4 linked regions of the Homo sapiens genome follow. The protein of the gene in region 1 binds, or shares a complex with, the protein of each later gene. Each region holds a gene or a part of one and is shown in the gene's direction. Other genes may lie near its edges.

What was found.
Region 2: HNRNPH2 (region 1) and ARVCF share a complex: the UniProt entries of both Homo sapiens proteins name them as parts of the ribonucleoprotein complex.
Region 3: HNRNPH2 (region 1) and SRSF1 share a complex: the UniProt entries of both Homo sapiens proteins name them as parts of the ribonucleoprotein complex.
Region 4: HNRNPH2 (region 1) and DDX5 share a complex: the UniProt entries of both Homo sapiens proteins name them as parts of the ribonucleoprotein complex.

What each region holds. Positions count from the first base shown.
Region 1 is NC_000023.11:101,411,167-101,414,674, forward strand, and holds the end of HNRNPH2 (heterogeneous nuclear ribonucleoprotein H2), read left to right. Parts: intron 1-769; coding exon of another isoform or gene 770-822; coding exon 823-2,172; 3' UTR 2,173-2,967; downstream 2,968-3,508. Other genes in the region: RPL36A-HNRNPH2 protein, read left to right, coding at 770-826. UniProt on the Homo sapiens protein: This protein is a component of the heterogeneous nuclear ribonucleoprotein (hnRNP) complexes which provide the substrate for the processing events that pre-mRNAs undergo before becoming functional, translatable mRNAs in the cytoplasm. Binds poly(RG).
Region 2 is NC_000022.11:20,013,728-20,021,173, reverse strand, and holds the start of ARVCF (splicing regulator ARVCF), read left to right. Parts: upstream 1-4,350; 5' UTR 4,351-4,585; intron 4,586-7,446. UniProt on the Homo sapiens protein: Contributes to the regulation of alternative splicing of pre-mRNAs.
Region 3 is NC_000017.11:58,004,240-58,011,498, reverse strand, and holds the start of SRSF1 (serine/arginine-rich splicing factor 1), read left to right. Parts: upstream 1-4,252; 5' UTR 4,253-4,361; coding exon 4,362-4,555; intron 4,556-4,971; coding exon 4,972-5,156; intron 5,157-5,525; coding exon 5,526-5,698; coding exon of another isoform or gene 5,699-5,752; exon of another isoform or gene 5,753-5,898; coding exon 5,899-6,093; 3' UTR 6,094-7,259. UniProt on the Homo sapiens protein: Plays a role in preventing exon skipping, ensuring the accuracy of splicing and regulating alternative splicing.
Region 4 is NC_000017.11:64,497,658-64,503,289, reverse strand, and holds the end of DDX5 (probable ATP-dependent RNA helicase DDX5), read left to right. Parts: coding exon 1-102; intron 103-191; coding exon 192-364; intron 365-740; coding exon 741-851; intron 852-1,066; coding exon 1,067-1,128; intron 1,129-1,220; coding exon 1,221-1,280; intron 1,281-1,976; exon of another isoform or gene 1,977-2,076; intron 2,077-2,450; exon of another isoform or gene 2,451-2,516; coding exon 2,517-2,741; intron 2,742-2,963; coding exon 2,964-3,367; 3' UTR 3,368-5,036; downstream 5,037-5,632. UniProt on the Homo sapiens protein: Involved in the alternative regulation of pre-mRNA splicing; its RNA helicase activity is necessary for increasing tau exon 10 inclusion and occurs in a RBM4-dependent manner. Binds to the tau pre-mRNA in the stem-loop region downstream of exon 10.

The sequences.
Region 1 (3,508 bases):
ATTCCCAATAATGTCTTTTTTTCATTTATCTCTGGAGCCCAAATATTTCCCTGATTTTATTGATTTGCATACATTTTTATATAATGAAGATATTATATAAAGAACTTACATAACCTGTGTTTTGTTTGTGTTTTAATTGTTGTTTAATCTTTTGATCTAGTGAAGTTTTTTATGTTTATATATTCAGATATAGCCATCTTTTATTTGTTGACATCTCCCACTGATTTGTTGCTGTTAATTTTTTTTTTTTTTTTTTTTTTTTTTTTGAGACGGAGTTTTGCTCTGGTCGCTGAGGCTGGAGTGCAGTGGCGTGATCTTGGCTCACCTCCACCTCCTGGGTACATAAAAGCGATTTTCCTGCCTCAGCCTCCCGAGTAGCTGGGATTACAGGCACCTGCCACCACGCCCAGCCAATTTTTTGTATTTTTAGTAGAGACGGGGTTTCACCATGTTGACCAGGCTGGTCTCGAACTGCTGACCTCAGGTGATACACCCACCTCAGCCTCCCAAAGTGCTGGGATTACAGGCGTGAGCCACCGCACCCGGCCGATTGCTGTTAATTTTTAATGGTATCTAACACGTAATAGGCATTGAATAAATAACTGCTAAAAAATGAATGAGTTAAAAATTTGGTGAACTCTCTGTTTATACAGACGTCTTACAGAAAAGCTGTCAGCATAATTGAATTTTCTATTAATAGTTTGCTTTTTTCTCTTACTATATCACGAGCATTTTTCCATGACAGTAGTCTTCTTTTTTTTTTTTTCAGCTACACCAAAATTGCATTGAGCCAAACTTGCCACCAAGAGCCCAACAATCACCATGATGCTGAGCACGGAAGGCAGGGAGGGGTTCGTGGTGAAGGTCAGGGGCCTACCCTGGTCCTGCTCAGCCGATGAAGTGATGCGCTTCTTCTCTGATTGCAAGATCCAAAATGGCACATCAGGTATTCGTTTCATCTACACCAGAGAAGGCAGACCAAGTGGTGAAGCATTTGTTGAACTTGAATCTGAAGAGGAAGTGAAATTGGCTTTGAAGAAGGACAGAGAAACCATGGGACACAGATACGTTGAAGTATTCAAGTCTAACAGTGTTGAAATGGATTGGGTGTTGAAGCATACAGGTCCGAATAGCCCTGATACTGCCAACGATGGCTTCGTCCGGCTTAGAGGACTCCCATTTGGCTGTAGCAAGGAAGAGATTGTTCAGTTCTTTTCAGGGTTGGAAATTGTGCCAAATGGGATGACACTGCCAGTGGACTTTCAGGGGCGAAGCACAGGGGAAGCCTTTGTGCAGTTTGCTTCACAGGAGATAGCTGAGAAGGCCTTAAAGAAACACAAGGAAAGAATAGGGCACAGGTACATTGAGATCTTCAAGAGTAGCCGAGCTGAAGTTCGAACCCACTATGATCCCCCTCGAAAGCTCATGGCTATGCAGCGGCCAGGTCCCTATGATAGGCCGGGGGCTGGCAGAGGGTATAATAGCATTGGCAGAGGAGCTGGGTTTGAAAGGATGAGGCGTGGTGCCTATGGTGGAGGGTATGGAGGCTATGATGACTATGGTGGCTATAATGATGGATATGGCTTTGGGTCTGATAGATTTGGAAGAGACCTCAATTACTGTTTTTCAGGAATGTCTGATCATAGATACGGAGATGGTGGGTCCAGTTTCCAGAGCACCACAGGGCACTGTGTACACATGAGGGGGTTACCTTACAGAGCCACTGAGAATGATATTTATAATTTCTTCTCACCTCTTAATCCCATGAGAGTACATATTGAAATTGGACCCGATGGCAGAGTTACCGGTGAGGCAGATGTTGAATTTGCTACTCATGAAGATGCTGTGGCAGCTATGGCAAAAGACAAAGCTAATATGCAACACAGATATGTGGAGCTCTTCTTAAATTCTACTGCAGGAACAAGTGGGGGTGCTTACGATCACAGCTATGTAGAACTTTTTTTGAATTCTACAGCAGGGGCAAGTGGTGGCGCTTATGGTAGCCAAATGATGGGAGGGATGGGCTTATCCAACCAGTCTAGTTATGGAGGTCCTGCTAGCCAGCAGCTGAGTGGTGGTTATGGAGGTGGTTATGGTGGTCAGAGCAGTATGAGTGGATATGACCAAGTTCTGCAGGAAAACTCCAGTGACTATCAGTCAAACCTTGCTTAGGTAGAGAAGGAGCACTAAATAGCTACTCCAGATATAAAAGCTGTACATTTGTGGGAGTTGAATAGAATGGGAGGGATGTTTAGTATATCCAGTATGATTGGTAAATGGGAAATATAATTGATTCTGATCACTCTTGGTCAGCTTCTCTTTCTTTATCTTTCTTTCTCCTTTTTTAAGAAAACGAGTTAAGTTTAACAGTTTTGCATTACAGGCTTGTGATTCATGCTTACTGTAAAGTGGAAGTTGAGATTATTTTAAAACTTCAAGCTCAGTAATTTTGAACACTGAAACATTCATCTAGGACATAATAACAAAGTTCAGTATTGACCATAACTGTTAAAACAATTTTTAGCTTTCCTCAAGTTAGTTATGTTGTAGGAGTGTACCTAAGCAGTAAGCGTATTTAGGTTAATGCAGTTTCACTTATGTTAAATGTTGCTCTTATACCACAAATACATTGAAAACTTCGGATGCATGTTGAGAAACATGCCTTTCTGTAAAACTCAAATATAGGAGCTGTGTCTACGATTCAAAGTGAAAACATTTGGCATGTTTGTTAATTCTAGCTTTTTGGTTTAATATCCTGTAAGGCACGTGAGTGTACACTTTTTTTTTTTTTAAGGATACGGGACAATTTTAAGATGTAATACCAATACTTTAGAAGTTTGGTCGTGTCGTTTGTATGAAAATCTGAGGCTTTGGTTTAAATCTTTCCTTGTATTGTGATTTCCATTTAGATGTATTGTACTAAGTGAAACTTGTTAAATAAATCTTCCTTTTAAAAACTGGAAAAAATCTTGAACTGATTGATTTTTATTATGTTCTGTCATATGGGCACACTGATTGACTTTACAATTCCCTCAAAGTTAAGATTTTTAATTTTAAAATTATAAATGATATTTAGCATCTTTATATGTTCATTGTTGCATATATCATTAATTATTTCTAAGATATATCCCTAGAAATGGGATTGCTGAGTCAAAGATATACTCATTTTTAAGGCTTCTGATTTGTGTTACCAGAAAGATTCTGGTACTTTATCTTTCTACTTGGAGTGTGTGTTTTATTTTCCCCCTTATACCCTCCTTATTGATGCACATTATTCTTTTTGAACTTTGCCAGTTTTTTAGTTGAGAAATGATATCTCATTGCTATTTTAATTTGTATTTTTTTGATTAATATTAAAGTTGTACATTCTTTTTTAAAAAAAACTTACCATGTCTACAGGACTATTGAGCTACTTTTGGAGACTGTACTTACCAAGATAGTATTCTCTAAAATCCAAAGAAGTGAAAGCAAATAAATAATCCTTTTTATTTCACCACAAACTAGAAGG
Region 2 (7,446 bases), on another chromosome or scaffold:
CACTAGCGGAGTCGGCCAGCCCCGGAGCCGCGCACTCACCGCCTCCGCCACCGCCGCCGACTTCCGGGTGCCGCGCCCGCGCGCCACCGCAGCCAGCCCAGTACCGCCCAGCCCGAAGCCGGCGCGTTCACCATTGGGCCGCGCAGCGAGGGGCGGGGCGGCGCGCCGCATGCCGGCGTCCCGTTGGCTGGGCGCGCTGTCGCTCGGAGGCTGCCACCTCCTGGCGCCCCGCCCCCGGGGCTGCGCCAAAGCTTCGGGCTGCGCGGGCGTCTGAGCGCTTCCTGATCCAGCGGCCTTCGGGGACTCCGCGGCTCCCTGCCTGCAGGGACGCCATGGGAGGTCGCAGCCGCCCCTGAGTCCATGCCCTCATGGACACCATCTGTCACCTGCTCACCCTGCGGCCTCTCTCGGAAGAGGTACAGGAATGCTCACTTCCGGACTGGCCCCCTCAGACTGCGTCCTGGTCTCCCCATCCTGTTCACTCAACCCCACCTCTGGACCTGGCCATCTTCCTCTTGGTCATCCCTTCCTTCACTTTATGGCCTCCAGGTCGGCTCTTTCCTCCCTGATGTCCCTGCCATTCCCAGTATGTACCCCCAGACCCTGGACTAGGCATTTGAGCACTATACCCTGCACACCCACCACCTCCCCCACTTCCACCCCCCAGTGTAGCCTTTGAGCTCACATCCAGGTCCAGGCCCCAGCGACGAGGGGCTGGCCCAGCTTGACTTGTGCAGGGTGAGCAGGTGGGCACTGACTGGGGCCCTCCCAACAGGACAGAGGCATTAGCTGGGACCGCTGCTCCTGTAGCCTCTGGGCTGTGCCTGGGCCTATGTGGCAGAAAGGTGGAGAGTCAAAGCCCAGAGGCTCAGGCCCTGCCTCAAAGTGAGCATTCAAAAAACTATGACATGGATGACAAAGACATTAGGGATAATGATAATGTGTAAAGCACTCTAAACCCAATGTCTGGGTCAGCAGTTCTTTCATCCCACTTTATAGATGTAAACACTGAGACTTGGAGCAGTTATGTCATTCAGTTGAAGTTGAAAAAGGTGGCAAGCAAGAGAGGCCACATTAGCTTCAACCTGTGTTGAAGACCTAGGTGCCCTGATGCCCTGCAGAAAACTGGGGCTCAGGGATGGGAAGAGCCTGGCTGGTAATCAGCAACGGCAAGAGTCTAACCTGGACCTACATGCGGGCCCGTTGTGCTCCACACTTTTGCTATCTTATCTGTGTTTCCCCTGGAACCCAACAGAACCTTTTACAAGGACTCCAGATGCCCAGGGACTCATGGCCAGCGGGCCGCAGACCCAGCCAGACATGGTTGTCTCTCCCACCATCCAGCAGTGGGATCATGTGGGGCTGGTACCAGTGATTTCCCTCTGAGCAGCCAAACCTATGCAATCTATAGGGCCAAGAGGTGGTGGTGGTGGACAAGTGGGATCTGGGGCTTGGGGGTGATGGACTGTGCCCTGGGGTTCATGGCAGCACCTGGAGAATGGGCTTCCCCAAAGCACCAGGCCATGCACCTCAAAGCTGGACATGAGTTGACCAAGGTTTCCCTTTGCCCACAAAGAGGGATGCAGTAACATGTCAGATGGTGGTTTGCATCCTGTTCTGTCATACCTTGTGGCCTTGGGCCATCCCCACCCCCAGCCATACTTTTCCCAGCTAGACAGAGCCAGAGCAGACACTCTGATCTTCTTTGTCACCACTGACACTCCAGTCTGGATGACATGCGATGCCAGGAAGCAGGTGACGGCAGATGAAATGGGTCTAGGATGGGCACCTAAGCCCTGGGATCTTGGGGCTGCAACAGGCTCACTGGCATCCAACCTCTAATTGCACACAAACTCAGATAGGAAGCTCACTACCTTCTGTGGCCACTCTTTTGATTTCAACAGCTGCCACTCTTGAAAAGTTCTTGACACCCAGCTGAAAGCATTTTCTCTCTGTGGCTTTCTCCGGGGGCCTCACAGCTGTCCGCATGGAGCTAGGTGAGAGGATGAGAGAGGGAGAACACTGGGCTACTGGTCCCTGTGGTCTCCCTTGCTGTGTTTTTCTTATCTTTTTCTTTTTTCCTTTTTTTTGAGATGGAGTCTCGCTCTGTCTCCTAGGCTGCCGTGCGGTGGTGCAATTTCAGCTCACTGCAACCTCCGCCTCCCAGGTTCAAGCGATCTCCTGCCTCAGCCTCCCAAGTAGCTGGGACTATGGGCGTCTACCACCATGCCCCGCTACTTTTTTTTGTATTCTTTTAGTAGAGATGGGGTTTTGCTATGTTGGCCAGGCTGGTCTCGAACTCCTGACCTCTGGTGATTTGCCTGCCTTGGCCTCCCAAAGTGCTGGGATTACAGGCATGAGCCACTGCGCCCAGCCTCCCTTGTTGTGTTTCTGACCCCTGGCTGCAGCCTAATGGGCCGACTGCTGGACAGCGGTCCTGAGTCCTGTTTGAATTGGTGCTGCCCCGACATCCTCTGACCTCAGCTAATGATCCTGCCTGCCGAGGGCAGACAGGTCTCTGCAACCCTATGGGTGGTAGGGGTGGTGATGAGAGGAGAGGTAGTCTCACTTGCACAGATTTTGGTGTATGGTTCTGTCTTTTGCACTCTTTCAACAGAGGTCTGTCCAGTCCCTCTTGCAAGTGTGGGGAGGGGGTGGTGCAGGACTATGAGGTAACTGTGAGAAGAGGGGCTCCAGCAGAACCAGGGTCCAATGGCCTTGAAGAGATGGCTGGGGACAGCTGGACTCATTACGTCTACTCCTAAATGGAGGAAACGACCCCTCAGCTACACAGCACCTGAGCCAGAATGTCACCATGGTGCTGCTCCACAGGATGACAGCTACCTGGTTTGTGAGGGCCCCTATTCTAGGGACAGCTACTTCATTCTGCCCTCCCAGAGCAGCAAGCAACAACCCTATGCCAGGAGGCCAATTGGCACGTCAAGTGCCAGCTCCAATCGATTGATAGTAGCTGCCTGGCTCTGAAAGGCAGCTGGGATCGATTCACCATGCTGCCAGCACACAGATGGACCCAGCGGTGGTCCCAGCAGTGAGTTCTTGCCTTGGGCCATTTCATTTTCTTTGTCCTGGCCAAGGAATGATTGGATGAACACACTGGACTCCCAATATGGGTGGATAAGACAAGAGTGTCTGGTCACACCCCTCCACCACTCATAAGCATGGTTGTGGGCAGTTTGGTTCCCCAGGCGGCCTTGGAGAATGCAATGAGCCGAGGAACTGGTCATCTCCAGGTGCATCCAGGGCAGGAAAGGATGACAGCATGCGTGAGCCAGGGTCACTGGCTAAGAAGTCATCTCAGGACCTCCCCCTAGAAAAGCCCACTGGGCAGCATCCCTGCTGGTTCCCCCCTACACCACAAGGTTACGCAGAGCTGGCGGAGGGTCATGGTCCCACTCATGTCAGGTGCTCTTAATCTGGCAAGGAAATGTAACCTACGTGAATCTCAACAGGCAGTGAAGCACCGTTTCTTCCTGACTCCAGGTAGGGTGAAGAAAATGGGACAGTAGTACGGGGTGCGGGCATAAACGCACAACTCTGCCTCCCCAGACGCAGAGCTGTGGGGCTGTGAGAATGCCAGGAGGAGGTAAGAAAGGGCGGCCCCATGGGGGGCCTGCAGGGTGGGACAAGCCCAAGAGGTCTCTACATCCAGGCCTGGTGGGGGAGGTGAGCCCCTGGTTTACCGAGGGGGTCCCTTCCTGCCCTCGGAAATACTGCAGCTCCTACCTCCATCGTCTCCCCGCTGCGGGGACCCAGGGGCGTGAGGATGAGAGAGCCCCCAGGCCCCAGGGTCAGACGACTGTGTTCAAGCAAGTGAGAACCTCTCTGAGGCTGTTTCCCAACTGTAAAATGGGGATAGCAGCAGAACTCTCTCTCGCGGCTTGCGTGAAGAATACAATTCGATGTCGACAGGAGGGAGCGGCGCGCAGCGCGCAGCGAGTAGCAGGCGCTGAAGAAGGATACCTGTGAACTGGGAGTGGTGGCGGAGGCTACGCGGCCAGAGTCCGGGGAAGGGGCGCCGGCTCTGCCAGTCCCTGCTCGGGGCTGGATGGTCGGGGGATGTTCTCGTAAGTCGGCTGGGAGGGAGCGGTCCCGCGTACCCTGCCACCGCCGCCGCAGAGGTTCGGGCAGGTGCGGGGCCGCGGCCCCTCCGCGAGGGGGCCGGTCATCCGCCGGGACTGACATCCCGGAGGCCCAATGGCAAGCCGTCATCTCCGCGCATCCGCCCAATCGGCGCCGGTTGCCGTGCCGCGCCGGGTCTCTCGACCAATGGGAAAATTTGCTGTCAGATGGGGCGGGGCGGAGATTCGCGTCGCCGGCCCGGTCCGCTTTGCGCACGGGCCGCGTGAGGGCGGGAGGGCTGGCCCGGGGTCTCGGGTTGCGCGCTGGGCCTGGAGGGAGGGGGCGGCCCCCGCACCGGTCCGAGTTGCGGCCGCGTGGACTGCGACCCGCGCCGCGCCGCACCGCGCCGCGCCCTGGGAACGCCGCTCCCCGCGCGCCAACGGACCCGGGGAAGCCCTTCTGGGGTCCGAGGCCGCGCTGCGGGGCCGCCCACGCTGCGCTCCAGGTAAGCCTGAGCCAGTGGGCGGGGTGTGGGACCCGGGGCTGGGGCCTCGGGTCGGAGCCGGGACTGGGGGCGGGGCTGCAGATATGGGACGCATTCCGGGCAGCGGTCCGGACAGGGTCCTATCCCTGGAGTCGAGATCCGGGCGAGGGTCTGGGCCGGACGTCGGAGCCAATCTCCGCCCCACCCGCGTCTTGTCCGCGCGCTCTGCGGCGTCCGAGACCCCGGGCCGGCGGGGGCGGGTCTCTTTGTGCGTGGCCTTGGGGCCCTACCCTACCCGTCCGGGCGTCTTGCACTGAGCACTCCAGCCGAGCGCGGCCCGACCCCGCAGCCGTGCCCGCCCCGCGCGACGCTTGGCGCCTAGCTGCCAGGGCCCTGCAGCCGCCGAAACTTTCCAACAGCCCGAGGGGCGGCAGGCCGGGAACTTTCCTGGGGCAGCGCGCCGCCGGGAAGCTCAGGGGCACCGACGGCCCGGAGGTGTCCTCGCGCCGCGCTGCTCCTGCCGCCTCGGGGGTGAGAGAGGGCGCGCCACCCGGACCCCCGGCCTGGGTCCCCCTCCCCACGCCGCCCTGCGCCCCCTCGGTGCCGGTGCGGAGACATGTCATCTCCACTCTGAGGGAGACTGCTCGGTTTGCTGGGGAGTCGCCCTGGGCAGGTGGCCTGAGAGCTCCAGCCTATTTTAATTTTTAAATAATTAAATATTGGCTGCTTACAATATTTCACCGTTTCTTAGCTATGTGTAATGTAACATACTTAAAATGGAACTAAAGGACTTCAGCTCCCTTTCCCTACATCCAGGCATATTTAGAAATAAGGAAAAGAAAGGTGCCCCGTGGGTATTTTTTAGAGTAGGCTCTTAATGCTGCTGTCTAATAACCTCAGGTGAGTACCCAGGCTGCTGTGGGGGAAACCTCCCCTATGGTATGGGCCAGGGGGGTGCAGTGGGAGCCTCCACCTCTCCCGACCTTAGCTTCTCTGGGGTAGCTGCCTTTACTTCTTCCTACTTCTTAACTACTGCCTTATCTGCCTTTACTCTGGGATCTGGGCGGTGTTTAGAGGTCTGGTCCAAACAAGGCAGGTGTTACCTATCTTGTACTCACTCTATTGGAGCTGGGATGGTGCTGAATGCAGGGGGGCAGTCAGCGCTCTCTTGCCCGGTGTGCCATGCCAGTGGCCGGTCAGCTCCTAAGCAGGTGATCCAGGCCTTAGATCAGGCGACAGTGTGAGCCGCAGCGTGTCTGGGAAGGCATTTCCCCCAGTCTTGCCCCATCCTATCCGCAATGTCTGCTCCCAGCTGTCCCCTGTCCCCACCCTACCCCCATTCTGGGGTCCACCAGCGCCCAGCAGAGGACTGGGCACAGAACATTCGCTAAGGGACTCAAGTCCCAGCTGAGAGGGTAGTTGAGCACAGCCAAGCCAGCCCCTGCCCAGCTCTTGGCTGAGCTGCCCTGTCAGGCTTTTCAGCATAAACACAAGGACCTTCTGACCAAGGTTCCTCCTGGGAGAACAAGTTCTGACCCTCAATCCTGCTAAATTTGAGTCTCCCCACCCACCACATCTGGGCTGCTTGGCTCCCATGTTTGCTCTGGCACTCCCTCCAGAGGTGGCCCTGTAGTCTCCCCCCAGTCCCGGGGCCCTCTGCATCTCTGTGGCTCTGTGAGGGTAGGGTAGCACCCCTCCTTCTGTTTGTGCTACACAGGGATTCAGGGTGAGTTCCCTGTGCTCCTTCACCCCAGGAGTCTGGCCTGGGGGAGCATGAGGCTGTCCTGAGTAAGGACAGAAGGTGCAGGAGCAGCAGGATCCCCGGTCTCTGGGTGGAGCAGGGAGCTCTGCACACGGATGCCAGGCACCACCCTCTGTCCAGCCCATCTGTCGTGCTCCCCGCCTGGCCCTGGCAGAGGGAGTGACAGGGTAGAGCTGGGATAGGGAGTCAGGGCCCATTCTGTAGACAGGGCCAGGAATGGAGGGTGGGGGTCCAGGGACAGCACTGCAGAGCACCAGCTGGGCCTTGGGGGTCCTGGGGACTTCCCTGATGGTGGCTTAGTCATGGGGAGGTGTCTGTTCTTTTGTCAGCAGCTTCAATTAAGACCAGAATGAGGCCGGGCGCAGTGGCTCATGCCTGTAATCCCAACACTTTGGGAGGCCAAGGCAGGTGGATCACCTGAGGTCAGGAGTTTGACACTAGCCTGGCCAACATGGTGAAACCCTGTCTCTACTAAAAATACAAAAATTAGTCGGGCATGGTGGCATGCGCCTGTAGTCCCAGCTACTCAAGAGGCTGAGGCAGGAGAATCGCTTGAACCGGGGAGGTGAGGGTTGCAGTGAGCCAAGATCACACCACTGCACTCCAGCCTGGGTGATAGAGCGAGACTCTATCTCCAAAAAACAAAAACAAACAAAACAACCAGGATGGGCTGGTCACGGTGGCTCGTACCTGTAATCCCAGCACTTTGGGAGGCCGAGGCAGGCAGACAGATCACCTGAGGTCAGGAGTTTGAGACCAGCCTGGCCAACATGGTGAAACCCTGTTTCTACTAAAAATACAAAACAAATTAGCTGGACCTGGTGGCATATGCCTGTAATCCCAGCTGCTGGGGAGACTGAGGCAGGAGGGTTGCCTGAACCTGGGAGGCAGAGGTTGCAGTGAGCCAAGATTGTGCCATCGCACTCCAGCCTGGGTGACAGGGTGAGACTCCGTCTCAAAAAAAGAAAAAAAAATACCCACAAAAAAACAAACAGAAAAACCCAAGATGAAGTCTTGGGTCACTCTGAGGGGACTTGGGATCAGGGATCCCTTAGTAGGTTTTCCTGGCTCAGGGCCTTCATATCTTGGCCTGTTTCAGGTCGGGAAGATGACCCAGAGC
Region 3 (7,259 bases), on another chromosome or scaffold:
ATGATTCACCTTGTTTTGTTCTTATTTCCAAATAAATTGTTTACTTGCTTTTTTGATGTTTTACTCTTGTGGACTGAAATATGTTAACTCTGGATAACTGGTAACATCCTTAATTGTAATCATCACAAAGCTAACGCCATCCTGCAAGACCTGATAAAACAGCCGTCAAGACTTTTCCTGCCATATACTGACCTCATCATCAACTCCAGAACAGTTGGTTACATTCAAATACAAAAAAAGATGCCAACAGAAATAAGAATGTCCTATTCACTCTCAATTAAGTTTTACTTTGTACTGTGCTGAACTGAACAAAATCAGAAATTACTGCATTAAATTAGACAAGAATAAATCAAAGCAAATTCAGGTTGGGTGTGGTGGCTCATGCCTGTAATCCCAGCAGTTTGGGAAGCCAAGGTGGGCAGATCACTTGAGGTCAGGAGTTCAAGACCAGCCTAGCCAACATGATGAAACCCCATCTCTACTAAAAATATAAAAATTAGCCAGGCGTGGTGGCATATGCCTGTAGTCCCAGCTACTCAGGAGGCTGAGGCACGAGAATCACTTGAACCTGGGTGGAGGATATTGCAGTAAGCCGAGATCCTGCCACTGTACTTCAGCCTGGGTGACAGAGCGAGACTCCACCTCAAACAAACAAACAAAAAGCAAATTCAATTATATTTTTCTGGAATGAAATTACCTTGAAATTAAAAGTACCTATGTGTATTGTCTCATCCCTTCTTAAAATGAACTATCCAATTATAAACTACTGATTTCAGTTATCACTTCAGTTATCATTGACTTATGATTAACAGAAGCTTTGCCTGCATAAATTTAAACTGATGTATAAAAGAACAGAAAGAAAATGTGTTCAGCAAATAACTGTTGAATGAAAGAATCAACAGGCTGCAAGTTTTTAAAAACTCTCCTCTTTTCTGCCATTCACTTAATGGAACAATGCTAGAAACAGTAGATTTGTTGAAATAGTATCTTTTTTGGTCACCTTCTCATTTAAAAACATATCAGGCTCTGGCCAGGCACAATGGCTCATGCCTGTAATCCCCCCACTTTGGGAGGCCGAGATGGAAGGATCGCTTGACTTCAGGAGTTCAAAAGCAGCCTGGGCAACATGGCGAGACCCCATCGCTACAAAAAATACAAAAATCAGTCTGAAGTGGTGATGCATACCTGTAGTCTCAGCTACGAAGGACACTGAGGTGGGAGAATCGCTTGGGTCCAGGAGGTCGAGGCTGCAGTGAGCTGTGATTGCACCACTGCATTCCAGCCTGAGTGAAAGAGCAAGACCCTGTCTCAAAAAAAAAAAAAAAAAAAAAAAAAAAAGCCGGCCAGGTGCAGGGGCTCATGCCTGTAATCCCACTACTTTGGGAGGCCAAGGCCGGAGGATCACTTGAGGCCAGGAGTTCGAGACCAGCATGGCCAACATGACGAAACCCCGTCTCTACTAAAAATACAAAAATTAGCTGGACGTGGTGGCTCATGCCTGTAATCCCAGCTACCAAAAATACAAAAATTAGCTGGGCATCGTGGCACATGTCTGTAATTCCAGCTACTCGGAAGGCTGAGGCACAAGAATGACTTAGGCCAGGGAAGCAGAGGTTGCACTGAGCTGAGATCATGCCATTGCACTCCAGCCTGGGTGACAGAGGGCAACTCTGTCTCAAAAAAAAAAAAAAAATATATATATATATATATATATATATACACACACACACACAAACACACATCTATATATATACTTAAAGGATGGTCTGAAGAATAGGCAATCTATCCTTCCCTTGACAAATTTCAGAAGTTCTTTTTCCTTTTGGGATCTATGGACTCCTTTAAGAAGTTGATTAAAATTCCAAATCCTCTTCCCAGAAAAAAGTACACACATGCATATAATTTTGTACATGCACACATGCATATAATTTTCGAAAATATTACAGAAAGCTCAAGGATTACCAAAGGTCATCTGTAGATATACCGAGGATCTACGGCCACAAGACCAAGCATCCCTGCTCATTTCAAATTGAATTTGTATTTTGGGGTCACCGAGAAACATTTGTAAAATATATTTCATCAGCTTTTAGAATTAAGAAAACATGTCCTTCTCCTGAATGACCTATTTACTTTTATCCCAAAGGCACTTTGGATTTTGAATACACAATACTTCTGTACCCTTCTTTACCGTGACTTCTGGGAAGACTAAAGTAAAATTTGCAATCTATCTCAACAAATTCAACGGGCTTTCACTGCAGGCATTTTGTATAGTAATTTATGCGTATTTCATTTAATCCACCCCTCATTTTCCCATTCCTCTGATTTCTTACTCTAGCATTTTTTTTGTGTGTGTGTGAGATGGAGTCTTGTTCTGTCACCCAGGCTGGAGTGCAGTGGCGTGATTTCCGCTCACTGCAGCCTCCACCTCCTAAGGGTTCAAGAGATTGTCCTGTCTCACCCTACCGAGTAGCTGGGATTACAGGCACGCGCCACCATACCCAGCTAATGTTTTGTATTTTTAGAAGATACGGGTTTCGACATGTTGGTCTCCGACTCCTGACCTCAGGTGATCCGCCCGCCTCGGCCTCCCAAAGTGCTGGGATTACAGGAGTGAGCCACCACGCCCAGCCTCATCTAGTTTTCATGTTTTATGGTATCTCTGTAAGTTGCCTCACATCCTTGCGGAAAGGGACTACTGTAAATAAATAACATGAAGAAAATTATCCCTTAAATTCAGTGTGTAGATCTGTTATGGCAAATTTATGACTGCAGGGTTTGATTTTAATTTGTTGTTGTTTCCCCCTCCTTTTTTTTTTTTTTGGAGGAGTCTCACTCTGTAGCCCAGGCTGCAGTGCAATGGCGCCATCTCAGCTCACTGCAACCTCCGCCTCCAGGGTTCTAGCGATTCTCCTGCCTCAGCCTCCCGCGTAGAGTGGATTACAGGCGCCTGCCACCAAGCCCGGCTAATTTTTTGTTTTTTCAGTAGAGACGGGATTTCACCATGTTGGCCAGGCTGGTCTCGAATTCCTGACCTCAAGTGATCCAACCGCCTCGGCCTCCCAAAGTGCTGGCGTGAGCCACCGCGCCCAGCCTGATTTGAATTTTAATTCATTAGCGACGTTTAAAAATCCCAGGATTTCACATAAAAATCCAGATTTCAGACGTCGAAAAAAAATGTAAAATGTTATCTCCCAATGCCGCAGGCAAACAGGATCACAGTCCTGAATAGCAACCGCGGTATCTAGTGGTTACGGTTCTCACATCCATTTTGCTCCATTTTATTACCTGAGAGGACCGGTATTTTCAAAACCTGGTGTATCAGTAACTTTTAGGGAAAACTTTTGAAAAAAGGACTGCACACACGCACCCTTTCTTCCTTCTCGTTCTTTGAAAGGAAACAACAGAAACGATTCATTCTGCAGGCATTCTGCGCTAGTCCCACGGACAGGCGACTAACAAGAGATAAAAAGGTGTGGGTCCCATAGGCGGTACGGTGTTACCCCTTCTGGTTGGCGGGTACCACGTTGCCGGTCGGGATACGGACCCACTGCGACTAGCACTAGGAGTGCTGACCCGAGCTATGCAAAGTTCTGACGAGAAGGCGGAACGGTACTTAATGAAGAGGATTAAGGAATCTAAATCGGTTTCGCTAAATTAGACACATCTGTCTAAGCAGCCACGGTCTATTCGCAGCAGGGGCGGGAAGACAAACCAACGCCCCAGCTCTCCGTTCAATCACCCGCAACTCAGCTCTGGATTAGACGCACCCTACGAAGATACCCGGGTTTCCGGAGCAACCGCCCGGGCCGTCCCCCTTTGGCCCCGCCTCCGAGACTCTTTCCCGCCAAAGGCCGTTATCGCCGCAGAGCATGGTGGGACAACGCTTTAGGCTAGGTTTCACCAAGTGCTTTGAAGGCGCCGAGTTGCTTTCAAAGATCCTCATTCCTGGAGAAATCGACCATCCTTCAAGACCCGACCTGGATGACTAGCTCCTTTAACGAAAGTTCGTTATTTAACTTTTACCAAACGGCTGGTCACTCTGTTCGCAAACCACCCCAAGCTGGGAACGCGGGGGACTTTTTTACCCCCTTCGTGGGGAGGGTGACGTCGCGCGTGCGTGCGCGTGCGCTGAACGTAGCCCTCGCAGCACCCGTTGCGCTCCCGCGCGTGCGTGTTGGGATCGAATCGCTGTTTCCTTCCGCTTCTCTTCCTCTGTCTCCCCCCCATATCCGTGCGCCGAGCTGATAAAGGCGCCATTTTGGAGGGGCCGCGGGAGACGTGGTGCCGCTGCGGGCTCGCTCTGCCGTGCGCTAGGCTTGGTGGGAAGGCCTGTTCTCGAGTCCGCGCTTTTCGTCACCGCCATGTCGGGAGGTGGTGTGATTCGTGGCCCCGCAGGGAACAACGATTGCCGCATCTACGTGGGTAACTTACCTCCAGACATCCGAACCAAGGACATTGAGGACGTGTTCTACAAATACGGCGCTATCCGCGACATCGACCTCAAGAATCGCCGCGGGGGACCGCCCTTCGCCTTCGTTGAGTTCGAGGACCCGCGGTGAGGCGGCATGGGGCTTGCAGCCTTGAGGAAATAGGTCCGAGTAGTTGGGGAAGGCTCCAAGGCCTTAACATAGAGAACGGGGAAGCGGGGGCTCTTAGAGAGGTTGGGGCGAGACTGTATCGCCCATGCAGGAGTCGAGTAAGGAGCTGAGTTGATGTGGCTTCTCTGGCGCCTCGCCTTGGACGTCCCCGGAGCCCATTCGCAGGCTGGAGCGGGAAACTGAGGCGCTGAGGGCTGGTGTAGTGGTTGGGAGCCTGGCGTGTTTCTGGGTGGGGGAGGGGCCATTCCTATTATGCGGCGCATGTGGGCTCTTCCACGTTGGGTGCGCATGTGCGGGGGGTTTGCTGGTTCCCAACTGAGCGAGCTTCTCCTCCTGGTGTTTCTCATCCCTTTTACTTTCTGCGATCCCGCAGAGACGCGGAAGACGCGGTGTATGGTCGCGACGGCTATGATTACGATGGGTACCGTCTGCGGGTGGAGTTTCCTCGAAGCGGCCGTGGAACAGGCCGAGGCGGCGGCGGGGGTGGAGGTGGCGGAGCTCCCCGAGGTCGCTATGGCCCCCCATCCAGGCGGTCTGAAAACAGAGTGGTTGTCTCTGGTGAGTGTACTGGTTGTGTGGATTGATGTGAAGGGACGAAAACTACCTAAAATTTTTCTCTTGCGTGACAGGTTTAATAATTGCAAATTTTTCATGCTAGGTCTTAAATTGCTTTAGTTTTTGGGTGAATTTAATAAACGAGGATTGCTGCTGTGGTGATTTACCAAATTAGGTTGCGGTACTAGATACGAAGATCGTTACAAATAATTTTGGACTCTGGATTCCAGAATCTTACCAGCTCTCTTTACCTGGTATCACTTAAGTACACCTATTAAGTACTTTAAAGTACTCTTTGTCCTAATGTACCTTACCAGCTTAACGTGAAATTTAAGATAATTGGTACTAAGAAAAAAAAAATCACTTTTTCAGGACTGCCTCCAAGTGGAAGTTGGCAGGATTTAAAGGATCACATGCGTGAAGCAGGTGATGTATGTTATGCTGATGTTTACCGAGATGGCACTGGTGTCGTGGAGTTTGTACGGAAAGAAGATATGACCTATGCAGTTCGAAAACTGGATAACACTAAGTTTAGATCTCATGAGGTAGGTTATACACGTATTCTTTTCTTTGACCAGAATTGGATACAGTGGTCTTAACAGTGGAATTTCAAGGTAAGGATTCAGGCAAGGTTGTCCAAGTAAATTGCCAGATTTCTGGTTTTAGTTACATTGTATTCATTCAGCATGTCTGAAGATAGATGAAAGCTTAGATCTTTCAATGGAAAGTTCTGTCTATCCAATAGGGAGAAACTGCCTACATCCGGGTTAAAGTTGATGGGCCCAGAAGTCCAAGTTATGGAAGATCTCGATCTCGAAGCCGTAGTCGTAGCAGAAGCCGTAGCAGAAGCAACAGCAGGAGTCGCAGTTACTCCCCAAGGAGAAGCAGAGGATCACCACGCTATTCTCCCCGTCATAGCAGATCTCGCTCTCGTACATAAGATGATTGGTGACACTTTTTGTAGAACCCATGTTGTATACAGTTTTCCTTTATTCAGTACAATCTTTTCATTTTTTAATTCAAACTGTTTTGTTCAGAATGGGCTAAAGTGTTGAATTGCATTCTTGTAATATCCCCTTGCTCCTAACATCTACATTCCCTTCGTGTCTTTGATAAATTGTATTTTAAGTGATGTCATAGACAGGATTGTTTAAATTTAGTTAACTCCATACTCTTCAGACTGTGATATTGTGTAAATGTCTATCTGCCCTGGTTTGTGTGAACTGGGATGTTGGGGGTGTTTGTGGTTATCTTACCTGGGGAAGTTCTTATGTTTATCTTGCTTTTCATGTGTCTTTCTGTAGACATATCTGAAGAGATGGATTAAGAATGCTTTGGATTAAGGATTGTGGAGCACATTTCAATCATTTTAGGATTGTCAAAAGGAGGATTGAGGAGGATCAGATCAATAATGGAGGCAATGGTATGACTCCAAGTGCTATTGTCACAGATGAAATTGGCAGTATTGACCTTATACTAAAAGGCAGGGGTTAAAAATGATTATATACATTTTCCTTAAAACACTTGCAAACATTTTATTCAGTTGTCTTTAGCTACAATTGCTTTGCTTTTTAAACCTTGGCAATTGTGGCAAAATTATATTGCCCATTTTGTAGCAACTTATTTTGCTCCCTTCCCCCCATTTTTGTTTTAATAGGGACTAATGTGGGAAGAACTGGCTAATTTGTCACAGTGCTTAGTTACAACTGTTAATGTGTGACCTGCTGTTGGTGTACATGTGGGTACAGGGTGTTTTTAAATCCAACAAGATAGAGTATAATATCAATACTGCTAAATCTGCATGTCCTCTGTGTGACTGATAGAGCGTTGCTATTTCATTTTTTTAAGACAAAATGAAAGCAAAATATAGAGTTCCAATGTATTGGTGTAGATAATCTAGTTGGGAATACTTTTAAGTCTCACCTTCCCCTTTAAACTAATATTCATAATTGGTTCATATGTTTAAAAGACTTTAATTTACAAATTAAATTGCAAATGGGAGCATTAGATTTAGTTTTAGACTTAGGTGGGTAGCAATGCCAGTAAACTTAAATTACGTAACTTCTTGCAACCACGAAACCTGTAATACGCTGTACAGTAACAAGT
Region 4 (5,632 bases), on another chromosome or scaffold:
ACCAATCTGAGAAGAACAACCTACCTTGTCCTTGATGAAGCAGATAGAATGCTTGATATGGGCTTTGAACCCCAAATAAGGAAGATTGTGGATCAAATAAGAGTAAGTGTCCTTTGAAATATGTGATCAAACTGAATTGTGTTTTCACTCTTAAGAGTCTGATACTAATTTTTCCCCCCAAAATCCATTAGCCTGATAGGCAAACTCTAATGTGGAGTGCGACTTGGCCAAAAGAAGTAAGACAGCTTGCTGAAGATTTCCTGAAAGACTATATTCATATAAACATTGGTGCACTTGAACTGAGTGCAAACCACAACATTCTTCAGATTGTGGATGTGTGTCATGACGTAGAAAAGGATGAAAAGTAAGTTTTATTAACTCTGTTATATTTGCTTCCTAACAACTTTGCTGTAAAATTGAGGGATCATTGTTTGGTGAGTTGTTTTAGGTTATTTCAGTTGGTGTGATTTCATTTAGTTAGCCTACTAATCCTGAAAATTTCTTGAATCCTTCAAATAATGGCTGTCACCATTTATAGCTTTCCTATAGAAGGAATTCATGTGTCCCCTGGTTGACTTAAGGACCAAGGGTCGAACTGCTCGATAAGTGGATTAGCAGGCGTTTCCTCTTTGACTTCCAGCCATGTAAATTGAACTTAATGTTTTGCTGACCATAAATGTGTGGCCCTAGCAATGGTCTTTTAAAACTCAGGATTTTTCCTTTCTCTCTCCTATTATTAGACTTATTCGTCTAATGGAAGAGATCATGAGTGAGAAGGAGAATAAAACCATTGTTTTTGTGGAAACCAAAAGAAGATGTGATGAGCTTACCAGAAAAATGAGGAGAGATGGGTATGTGTGAGCTCCTCCATTGAAGCAGATTGATTAAAACAGCTTAGGAAAGGGCAAACTTGGATCACGAGCAGTGGATTTTTTTCATATCTGATAGTGAATTTAACTTTTTCATTTCTGGCGAAATTAAAGAGATCTGTGACCAAAAGTGGTCAAGCACTGGAGTCTGAGGTTTTCAATGTGAGTTTAATAACACAACTTGTCTTTTAACTTAGGTGGCCTGCCATGGGTATCCATGGTGACAAGAGTCAACAAGAGCGTGACTGGGTTCTAAATGGTAAATATTTCAAATGAAGTATTTTTCCCCCTTACTTAACCTAGCTAGAATTCTGCTCAGATAATTGATCATGTATATGCCTTCCTTTGTAGAATTCAAACATGGAAAAGCTCCTATTCTGATTGCTACAGATGTGGCCTCCAGAGGGCTAGGTTAGTACAAACTCGCATTCATGGCTTGGTTTCCCAGAAGATCTCCATTTAACTTTTTTAAAGAAAGTTTATTGCTTTCTTTAACCTGCATTTTTTCTAAGTTTTTTTTCACATAAAGGTGCTGTCTTTGTGGCAAGGCCTAGGCATGACAATCGGAGGACTCGAGGGGGATGGAGGACTAGTGATCGGCTGGCTGCTTCCAGTCGATTAGAGAGGTGAAAAAGCTGAACGTGTGCCAGTAATCTTCAAAAGGCAGAACATATCACCTCTGCCCCGTAAACTGTTCTCTCCGAGGGAAAAAATGGAAGTTATCCTCACAGTTCACTGCCGTGGTATTTCTTCTGTCCCATGCTTTGCATGACTGCCATGGTACAGCCTTGTTTCAAACTGTTCACTGTGATCTGTGGGTCTTTGAGTTTCAGTGAGTTTGCTGAAATGTCGAAGAAGTAGTTCCAAACTTCAATGTTCAATGAAATTTTTGTTCAAGTTTGAAATGGAGAGAGCAGCTTTAAAAGGTACTAAGCCTTTTACAAATTGGTGAGTACTGGCACATGAGATCTAGAGCAGGAGCAACTTCTCACACATAGTAAGTGGGAAAAGAAAGTGCTTTGAAAGTTCCTCCCTCACCTACACAGTAGTCGTCATGTCGAGACCTGCCAGAGAGAGACACATTCTCAAGTGAATCCTGGCTTCTTGGAAGCGCTTGCCTAGACGAGACACAGTGCATAAAAACAACTTTTGGGGGACAGGTATGTTTTCTTGCAGCTGCGGTTGTAAGGTCTTGGCAAGACAAGCAGTGTGGCCAGAATTTTGAACTTCTGATGAATGTGTAATGCAAAGGACCTTGTACATTTTTTTGTTTCAAGGTCCTCAAAATGAGCACATGAAGAGGTTGCTGTGAAACTTTAAGTGGCCCTACTGCGCAGAAGCATTCAGATGTCACTTGATGATCTGTAAGGGAACTTGCTGATTTGGGAATGTGCTTAGGGAACACACATTCCTTTTGACAGGGTCTGTCACTGGGTGGGTGATGAATTATACAGATGACATGTGCTTTTTTTTCTTTTTTCAACCTCAATGGTATTCCTACAGGAAATGGATAACCATTTTAACTGTATTTTTTGCAGCCCGTACCTTCTTGGGAATACAATTGTCTAACTTTTTATTTTTGGTCTGGCTGTTGTGGTGTGCAAAACTCCGTACATTGCTATTTTGCCACACTGCAACACCTTACAGATGTGGAAGATGTGAAATTTGTCATCAATTATGACTACCCTAACTCCTCAGAGGATTATATTCATCGAATTGGAAGAACTGCTCGCAGTACCAAAACAGGCACAGCATACACTTTCTTTACACCTAATAACATAAAGCAAGTGAGCGACCTTATCTCTGTGCTTCGTGAAGCTAATCAAGCAATTAATCCCAAGTTGCTTCAGTTGGTCGAAGACAGAGGTTCAGGTAAGGATGACTGATAGGAAATGTTGGTAGTTACGAGTCACATCGTTGTCTACAAATCCATTTAAATGGTATTGGAGGGTGAGTAAAACCTTGAATGTGAAAACTTAAGCTGAAAAATTGTAAAAACATTTCACGCCTACCATGAATAGATCTGTTTCTTTCTGTCCACAATGATTTGTGTCATAGACATAATTGATCAATTTGCAATTGTTTTCTTGACAGGTCGTTCCAGGGGTAGAGGAGGCATGAAGGATGACCGTCGGGACAGATACTCTGCGGGCAAAAGGGGTGGATTTAATACCTTTAGAGACAGGGAAAATTATGACAGAGGTTACTCTAGCCTGCTTAAAAGAGATTTTGGGGCAAAAACTCAGAATGGTGTTTACAGTGCTGCAAATTACACCAATGGGAGCTTTGGAAGTAATTTTGTGTCTGCTGGTATACAGACCAGTTTTAGGACTGGTAATCCAACAGGGACTTACCAGAATGGTTATGATAGCACTCAGCAATACGGAAGTAATGTTCCAAATATGCACAATGGTATGAACCAACAGGCATATGCATATCCTGCTACTGCAGCTGCACCTATGATTGGTTATCCAATGCCAACAGGATATTCCCAATAAGACTTTAGAAGTATATGTAAATGTCTGTTTTTCATAATTGCTCTTTATATTGTGTGTTATCTGACAAGATAGTTATTTAAGAAACATGGGAATTGCAGAAATGACTGCAGTGCAGCAGTAATTATGGTGCACTTTTTCGCTATTTAAGTTGGATATTTCTCTACATTCCTGAAACAATTTTTAGGTTTTTTTTGTACTAGAAAATGCAGGCAGTGTTTTCACAAAAGTAAATGTACAGTGATTTGAAATACAATAAATGAAGGCAATGCATGGCCTTCCAATAAAAAATATTTGAAGACTGAATTAAGTGGAAATTGTACTTTATTTTATATAATGTCATGTAAAACTTTGCTTAAGATGGTCTGGTTTTTTTTTTGTTTTTGTTTGGTTTTTTTTTTCCATGAAAACAAATGACTGTTCCTTTTTATTTAATTTGGGAGGCAGGGGGAATCAGAAGGCCCTTCTTTATAATGAGCTATTCATATTGCAGGAGTCAGAATGAATTGATACAGGTGAATTTTTAGTTACAGGCTAAATTGCATAAAAGCTTTGTCAGCTTCCAGCATCAGGGGAGTCATTTAATAGCCTTTTTCCTTATTTGCTAGTATGGTTAAATGAGAAAATAGTAAAATAGATACAAAGTCATCTATATAGTGTGAGAACGTGGGTGACTTTTTCAAAGTTTATAATTTAAAAAGCTCCAAATAACTGGCTTTTTCAAGAGACTTATACTCATGCTCTTGGCTATACTGTGAATTACTGAAATGTTGAACAAACCTGTGAAAGACATACATTAGCCCTTTAAGATGGCCAGGAGCTAAGCTTGAGTCTCCTTTACTGAATTTCGTTCTTAGTGCAGGTTACTTGTAGATTCTAGTCTTCACAGGCTCCCTGGGGCTCTTAACTAGTCACACTGGGAGTCATGAATGTCTTTCCAATAATTCAGGGAATTCTAGAGATCCTCAAACTGTAAGGTCTATTCATACTCAACACAAGGAAAAAACCTCATTAAAATTAATGACTAATCAGGAGGCAACGTAACCAAAAGCACAGTGAATGAAAGTTTTCATGGTAGGTTCAACATGGGTTTATTGCTAGAAAGATCCAGGGGATAGCTTTAGGTTTAACTTCGGCTCACCAACGTAACTTTCTAATCATTTATTTCAGTAATAGCTAGAAGTGGGTCTGAATGTTTTCCCAGAGTCTGATACGTGTTTTTTTTTGCCAGAAGAGAGGTCTTCAGGAGACTTCATTTAAATTCTGATTATTAAACTGAGGCTTTAATTGATGTTAATGCCTTATGTCAAATGTAAAGTTAGAATTTGCTAGGGCTGGGATAGGGAGTGATATTTCTAGGACTTAGACATTGAAAACTAATTCAGCCTGTAGTAACCTGGATGGTTTTCAATGGCATGGTTAGTCAAATTCATGGTTTTAAACTTAGAAGCAGCTTTCGGGGGAGAGGGTAGGTTGGAGCATTTATTACATATTTTACTGTTTAATGTCTTAACCGTGGGCCTTTTAATTTGTAAACACTGAAATGATTGTTGGGCTGTGGAAAACATTTACCTATTTACCTTGGAAGTTTTAAAAGACAGTCCACTTTTTAGCATGTGTGTTGTGTCCAGCCTGTGGTCGTCTTAACTAATAAATGTGATTTTTCTCCCCATTCTCTCTTTTTATTTATTTGCGTATAGGCCTTTTACCTGGTGTGAGTTCCTGAATGTGGAAAACACCTGGCAGTAGTACCCAGCTTTGCAGTTAATTACTATCTAGCTGGCCTTTTTTTAAACCCTTGTATACACTTGTAAAGAAGAACTATTTCCTGAACCTGGTACAGCACTTTACTAATGATAAAACTTTACTCCTGAATTACATTAACTCAATTGCTAAGCTGTTACCCCTCTTAATCAGGTAGTAGTTTGGTAGTCTCACAGTGAAATGTAGATTGTTCCTTTTTCCCTGAACCTCTTTAAAGGTTTTCGTAACTGAGGCTGGTATAAGAAATCATGGACTTTGGAATCAAACTTCCTCAGTCTGGGTATACCACTTTTCCACTTTCTGGGTAGGTCTTAAGGTCTCGACCTATTTAAATAGAAACTGCAAAATCAGAAACCTGCAATTTAATCATGAGTCTCTTAATAATAACAGTCACAAGTCTCATTGTTTTGATGAACCCATAGAAGGGGCCCCTGGAAGAAATTGCACGTACGTGGTTTTCTCTGACACCAGGAGGGTTTAAGACATGTCAGGGCCCCTTGGTTT